Homo sapiens: one gene and its partner. The protein of the gene in region 1 interacts with the protein of each later gene in a pairwise test. Each region holds a gene or a part of one and is shown on either strand. Other genes may lie near its edges.

Region 1 (3,957 bases):
GTAACAGAATTCTCTTGAGGACTTCCAGAGATTGGGTTCTGTCTTTAAGTCTCACTTCTCCTTTGGGTCAGTATCTAACTTTTAAGCTATCCTTTAGATGCAGTGTTCTAAATTTTTAAAATTTATTATAAATTATACAGGTAATACATATTGTACTCTTCTTATAAACTATTCAAGCAATAGAAATAAAACAAAAGTCTCCTTTGACACTTAGCCCAACAAATTCCTTTCCTGTATTCCCTTCCAAGATGTAACAAGTTATCCATTTAATATGAATCAAACTCAGTATAAACTCAATAAACTCAAGATATACACATACTTACAACAAATAGTTTTGTGGAGTTTTTTTTTCCACATACATATTGCATTGTATTCTAGTGTCTTTTTGCTTAAGAACTTACGTATCTGGAGGAGCTTTCCCTGTTGATTCATAGATATCAATCTTATTTTAACAGCTGCATTGGATTTCACAATACAGCAAACTCAGATTTCTTGCAGAAAAAAATGAAGATAACTAGAAAATATAAGTCTTCTTCCCTGGCACAACTGTCCTCATTGCTGAATCCCTGGTTGCCATACAGCTTGCTCTTGACTGGAGAGTCAGGAAGGGAAGGGCCTCATACCCCTCTCAGCTGGGTGCAGAGCAACACCCCAAGCCTACAGCTCAGATGACCCTACATGTGAGCCCTCTATGGTTCAACTGTCCTCACCTTCCTCTTGGCCACTGTGGCCCAGTGCCATCCCCAAGACTTACCCACACAAGGAAGGTCATTCCAGAGAGACTATGTGTGTGGGCTGGCCCCAGGGAGGGGCAACTGTAGACCTTTTTGTTCTACAGGAGGGGGAGGTGGCAACCAAACAAAGTTCCATTGTCTGACCAACGCTGGGGGGCTCATGCCACCCCTACTCCCACCCCAACTGTCCTGAATCTCTCACCTCAGCATGCAATACCATGTACTTACCTTCTGGAACTTCCACCTTAGAACCTTCTTGGGAATCCCCCTTGTTTAACAAGGGAGATAATTCACTGGCTCTAACTTCTATTCCTCCTGTTACAATATCAACCATTGCCCTTCTCAGCTGTGCTCAATGGTTCTATGAGTGGAACAAGTGTTGAGACACAACTCTCCCTCTTCCTTATACATCAAGATTCCTTCCCCCTATTTCCCTCACTATGCCCTTCTCCAACTCTCTATCTTTAACATTTTCTCAGGGTACCCCCAAATAGCCCAGTACAACCCAGAAGAGTCTAGGGCTCAAGCAGCTGACAGCAGAGAACCCTGGGCATTCTGGCCAGCCCCCTTTCCCTTGATGTCCTCCCCACCACCCCCACTTGCCTATGGCTCACTCATTGCACTAGGATTCAGGGCAGTTCAGAGAAGGGAAGGGGCCATTCCAATAATCCTGCTTTGACCTCTTACTCACCCAACATCTGCCAGGGGGCAAGGAAAGGGCTGGTCAGCTTATGAAGGAAGACAGCTTTAGAGGGATAAGATCCCAGAATCTCATAGAACCTCACTCCATTCACCCACACAACAGGTGAGGAGCCATAGAGAGACAAAAAATCTGAGGAGCTGAGACCACAAACCTGGGCTCCTTACTTAGATCGCACTCTCTTTTTCCTTCTGGGAAACTAAGGTTAAGGCACCTCCTGCACTGCTAGGGGACGAGTGGGAACCAAACCCAGGTGTTTGAGCCTATTTCTTTATGTAATCTAACACTGCTTCCCACCAGGCTGTTAGCATGGCTCTGGGGGCATGCTACTATTTCCAACCTGGGTCCAGCCATGGCCACCACTCAGGGAAGCTTGCTACACTCTCTTTTACCCTTTCTTTTAAAATAAAACCTCTACTTCCTCCCTCTAAATGCATATTTTTTTCTTTTCATATATATATATATATATTTTTTTTTTTTTTGAATTTTACAGATGGAGTCTGGTTATGTTGTCCAGGCTGGTCTCCAACTCCTGGGGCTCAAATAATTATCCCACCTTGGCCTCCCAAAGTGCTGGGATTACAGGCATGAGCCACCATGCCCAGCCGCATATTTTTTCTTTCTGAATATAATGTCACCTTCCTGCTCCTGCTTGTTCTTTCTTTGGTTGCAGTGGGGAGTGCAGCAAAGGCTGTGGGGATTGCTGAGAGACACCTGAGTCCCAAGACTCCCAGAGTAGAGTGGCTCCACTTACCCAAAGAAGAGAAGAGCAGCACAGCCAGGATAGGGCTGGGGCTGGATGAGGGAGCCCCAGGAGCCATAGCTGGGGCAGGGGCAGGGGCCCGGAGCATCTGTGGGGTTGAGAAAGTGGGGGACCAGGAACTGAACGGGGGGTTCCTGGAACCTGCTTAAAATCCCCTAGGGCCCCAGCATGAGGGGGCTGTCCTCAGCCAGTAACCAATTGCAGCCTGGCATGTGCAGTTGAGAGGTGGTGGGGAGGGGGGCAGAGTGCAGGGAGCAGAAGGGGCATTGTATAGTCTGGGTGGAGGGGTGGGGGGACACATACCACCCCATACACAGAGGGCTTTGTGTCCACTGGCCTCCCCCTGCCCCAGGCTGGAATGTTGTGGGGGGTGGTGAGGGAGAGGGACAAAAACAGGGACACAGACACACTTCTCTGAGGGATAGATATGGAACCTCAATTTAAAGGCCATAAAAAGGGATTTCTCCTCAGCCTCCTTGCCTGAGAGAGGCTGCCTCACAGCCCTAGGAACTAGAGGGAGGTTTCCCCCAGAGAACTCTGAAAATAGGATATCCCCTGTTATCTCCTCTAATGTGGGCTGCATTACAGACTTCTTGAGATGACCAAGTCCTATGGGAGTTTTTTTCCCCGCACCTCCCTTCATCCTGTGCGATTCTTCCCAGACAGAAGTTTTTCTCCACTGGACTATTTCCAGGCAAGAAGCCCCTGACCTTTCCGTTTGTCAAGAAGTCCTTCAGTGCTTCATGCTGCTGTTTAAGTCCATTTCAATTTATTTCAAGGCTACAAAATTGTATTAAGTGCCAGCAATATGTAAAGTATGAGAATGCAGGTAATAGAGAGAGGAATAAAAATTAAGTCCTTCCAGCAAGGAGTTGAAAATTTGGTTTGGGGAGGTGGAGATGGGAAGATCAGAGGACAAACCCATCAACAATCAAGTATAATAAGCCATGACACTTCCTTTAGTAATGAACAAAATGCTGGGAGTACAAAAGAGGGGCACACACAGCTGCAATATCAGGAAGACTAAGTTATATGAGAGATTAAAGACAAAATAAACTTTAATAAATGAAGTTTATGCCAGGCATAGTGGCTGACACCTGTAATCTCAGCACTTTGGTAGGCTTATGCAGGAGGATTGCTTGAGTTTAGGAGTTTGAGACCTGTCTGGGCAACATAGCAAGACCTCGCCTCTACCAAAATTTTTTAAAAAATCAGCTGGGCATGTTATCACATGCTTGTAGTCCCAGCTACTTGGGAGGCTGAGGCAGGAAGATCGCTTGAACCTGGGAAATCAAGGCTGCAGCGAGCTATGATTGTGCCACTGCTTTCCACCCTGGGCTACAGAATGAAACTCTGTCTCAAAAATAAATAAATAAATAAATAATCAAACAAATAAATAGTTCAGAGGGAAGAATAGTTGTGTCTAGGAGGCAATGTTAGATATGAATCAGCCTTGAAGGATGACTGTCATTTTGGAAAGGGAGATAGGGAGGGTTACCAGAAGATAGAACAGCAAAAGCAAGGACAAAGAGGTGAGACGGAGAGACAGAATGTGTGTGTGTGTGTGTGTGTGTGTGTGTGTGTGTGTGTGTGTGTGTGTGTGTATGTATATGAGATGTAGGTTTCTGAAGTGTTGGATATATTCAGGGCCGATCTTGTGCCATCCACTTTGACTTGATTTGGGGAAACTTGAAGTGGCATAGTCAGAAATGAGACTGGACAGGAAAGTCGAAACCAGTTTGTGAAAGGCCTTAAATGAC
Region 2 (3,500 bases), on another chromosome or scaffold:
GTTTCTCCATGTTGGTCAGGCTGGTCTCAAACTCCCGACCTCAGGTGATCCGCCCGCCTCAGCCTCCCAAAGTGCTGGTATTACACCGTGCCCAGCCAAGCTTACATTCTTATCTGTGTTTCTACTGAGTTCAACTGTGATCGTAAATATCAAGATGTTTTCTGTGTATAATTAGTAAGGAATAGTGTCCTTGAACTTTACTACTTCATAGATCCTGCATTTCCTAATATGAGTCATTCAGTATTTTCAGAAAACATTTTCCTTATCTTTTTCTTCTGCTAATAAATTATTGCCCTTCATATTAGGACCACACACAGAACTGTTAGGTTATTTCAAAATCATGATCCTATGGATAAGGAAAACTGTCCAAGTTATACATTCCAACAAAAAGTCCAATCTGGTTAGAAAAAATACCAACAAAGCACCTTTCCCTTCACACTGTTGGGCTCACTTCCACACACGTCACTGCAATAAACCTTCCTATGGTTAGATGTGTGCTGTGATTTTACCAGGTAATTACCAGCATATTCTGCTAGCTACCTCCAAGCAGGACTGTGTCTTATACCTCTGCAGATCCTCACACCTAAACTAGTACCCAGCACACAGCTCAATAAATGTTTGCTGAACTCAAGTCTAATTCATTATTTCACTCCACAAAATTCTTTCAATCTACCAAATATCTTTTGATTATTCACACATGACACACAAGGAATAGACTGTTCATAAACAAGAATGTTTATAAAAATGCTTGCAGATTACAACAAAATCCAATTAAAAAATGGGCAAAGTACTTAGACACTTCTTCAAAGAAGATATAAAAATGGCCAATAAGCGATGAAAAGATGCTTAACATCAGTCATTAGGGAAATGGAAATCCAAATCACAATGAGACATCATCTCACACCCATTAGGATGGCTATTATCAAAATTATAAAAGATAATTACTGGTTAGGATATGGAGAAATTGGAACTCTTATGCACTGTTGATGTAGCCACTACAGAAAACAGTACGGCAGCTCCTCAAAAAGTTAAAAATAGAACTACTATATGATCCAGCAATCCACTCCCAGGCATTACCCAAAGGAAAGGAAATCAGCATGTTGCAGAGGTACCTGCAAACCCACGTTCACTGCAGCACTATTCACAACAGCCAAGATATGGAATCAACCTAAGTGTCCACCAACACATGAACTGGGAAACATGTGGTGCATACACACCACGGAATACTATTTACCCTTACGAAAGAATGAGAGTTTTTCATTTGAGGCAACATGGTTGAGTTTGGAGGACATTAAGTGAAATAAGCCAGGCACAGATAAATATCACATATTCTCGTTCATATGGAAAAGCTAAAAGAGTTGAGCTCATAAAAGTAGACAGCAGAATAGTGGTTATTAGAGCTGCGTAAGGAAAACAGCTATGTAGGAACAGCTAAAGATTGGCTAATGGATATAAAAGTCCCACTACATAAGAGGAAAAAGCTCTAGTGTTCTATAGCACTGTAGGGTGACTATAATAAATAATATTTTATTTTATATTTTCAAATAGCTAGAAGAACAGATTTTAAATGCTCCCAACACAAATAATAAATGTCTGAAGTGATATATATGCTAATTACGTTGATGAACATAACACATGTGTACATTACAAATTGTGCACAGGTATTGACATATCACACTATACTCAATAAATATGTATAATTATGTGTCAACTAAAAATAATAAAAGCAAAAAACAAAAAGTAGATAAACATATTTGCATTGAGAACTTATGTCATCTGATTTCCCTACCTGTGGTTTCCTGCCCATGGCAAGTGTTCAGTTCGGCCAGAAGCTGGTTAAAATCATCCTGATGGGCAATCCAGTTGTCCTGAAAATATCAAAGAAATGAACGAGAGGTAAGCCTGTAGTTTACTTACACTGACTGAGATGATACATTTTGGAATCAAGGAAATCCAGTGGTTAATTAAGAAATTTTAAATGTTCCATCAAAATACTATTTGATAAATTTAAGTGGATTCAAGAAATAATATAAAGTTAAAATGCTCTTTATCCAGGTCAATATTAAAAAGGGGCTTCCTGGAAGCTTAAGGCCTGATTTCAAATGTGAATGACTTATCGATCAAGTCAATATATAGTAAATAATCAACAGGCAACCTGTGTGCTAAATGTTAAAGTAAAACATAATGAAATGACTATTTTTTTCTCACTAGGGGAAATTCCATAGTTGAAAGGACAAGAACCATGCGGGACAAAAAAATGCTCTTCTTTGCTTGGTAGAATTAAAATCTTCTAATGACTTGCATCAACTCCAATTTTACAAAACTCTGAGGAAGGGGAGGAGGAAGAACCTTAAGTCCCCTGAATCGATGAGTTCCCATTTGTAAGGTGGTTACCTAATAAGTTTATTATAAAAAAATGAACCTGGCTTTTATAAGAGAATGAAGATCTCCCAAACCAGTGGGAAGCAGGGTTTCAGTGTACGAATCTGCCTTACTCACATTCTTAGCAATTTTTAAGAATGCTTAAGGTAAAGGAATATGAAATAGGTTTACTGGGCAATGCTTCTTCTAAGAAAATAAGTATATCTGTGTTATCTATCCCTCAACAACTACATTTGAAATCAACTTTATATAAACTCTTTCTTTAGTGGCTAAAAATTTTAGCTCCGCCAATCCACTACTCAGAGATACGGAACTAACCAAAGTAATTCAATTTACCTAAAGTAATTTCCCAGATTCCCTACCAGATTATGTTGGCTGCAAAAACTTAGAAACAAAACTTTTCAGTTTAGATCCTTTCCAAAAGGGAACAATGATACTAAAAATAAAAAGCGCGGTAGGCCACTGACTCTGAGTTATAGTGCCATGCATTCAAAGCGTCAGTGTTCAAGAGGAAACGTGAATAAAAAGAAGTGCTGCACCAATGGTCAGAAGCAGATGAACCAATCAACTTTCAGATTTACAAGACTGAAGCCAATTATGCAAAGACACCCAGGAGGCACACACTGCTGCTCACTTCATTATTGATGGTAGCTCCGAGTCCCAGGTGGTTATTTTTCACTTGAACTTTAATATGATCTGTGGCTCCTTGCTCCTGAGCCCCTAAACCCTGTGGAGATTAAACACAGAGAGTTAGAACATTCCTCTCACTGATACTCAGAAGCAGAGCACTGCTACAAAACTCACAGATGCCTACGGCAGGTGTTCTGAGTTGATGATTCTCTCCATTAAATACTTTCACAAAGCAACATGGGGGAGGACTCTAAGTCCTCTGCATCAATTAGCACTCATCTGTAAGATTTTCCAGGTAAGGAAAGATCAAGTGCAAAGACCCGAAGGTGGGAAAAAACTCAGTGTACTGGGAAACCTCAGAGGCACCCAGGGTGGCTTCTGCAAATTAAGGAATGAAGGAAGTAGGATGACGGAGGGGCTAGATCTCACATAACCTACGGGAGGAATTTGGATTTTATTTTAAAGACAATGGAAAACCACTGGTCTTT

The links. The genes of interacting proteins can lie anywhere in the genome.
Region 2: the proteins of MPZ (region 1) and PINX1 interact in a two-hybrid assay, tested with the Homo sapiens proteins (one large-scale study listed by IntAct).

What each region holds. Positions count from the first base shown.
Region 1 is NC_000001.11:161,307,651-161,311,607, forward strand, and holds the start of MPZ (myelin protein P0 isoform MPZ precursor), read right to left. Parts: upstream 2,319-3,957; 5' UTR 2,286-2,318; coding exon of another isoform or gene 2,256-2,285; coding exon 2,189-2,255; intron 1-2,188. UniProt on the Homo sapiens protein: Is an adhesion molecule necessary for normal myelination in the peripheral nervous system. It mediates adhesion between adjacent myelin wraps and ultimately drives myelin compaction.
Region 2 is NC_000008.11:10,829,876-10,833,375, forward strand, and holds part of PINX1 (PIN2/TERF1-interacting telomerase inhibitor 1), read right to left. Parts: intron 3,110-3,500; coding exon 3,017-3,109; intron 1,869-3,016; coding exon 1,790-1,868; intron 1-1,789. UniProt on the Homo sapiens protein: Microtubule-binding protein essential for faithful chromosome segregation. Mediates TRF1 and TERT accumulation in nucleolus and enhances TRF1 binding to telomeres. Inhibits telomerase activity. May inhibit cell proliferation and act as tumor suppressor.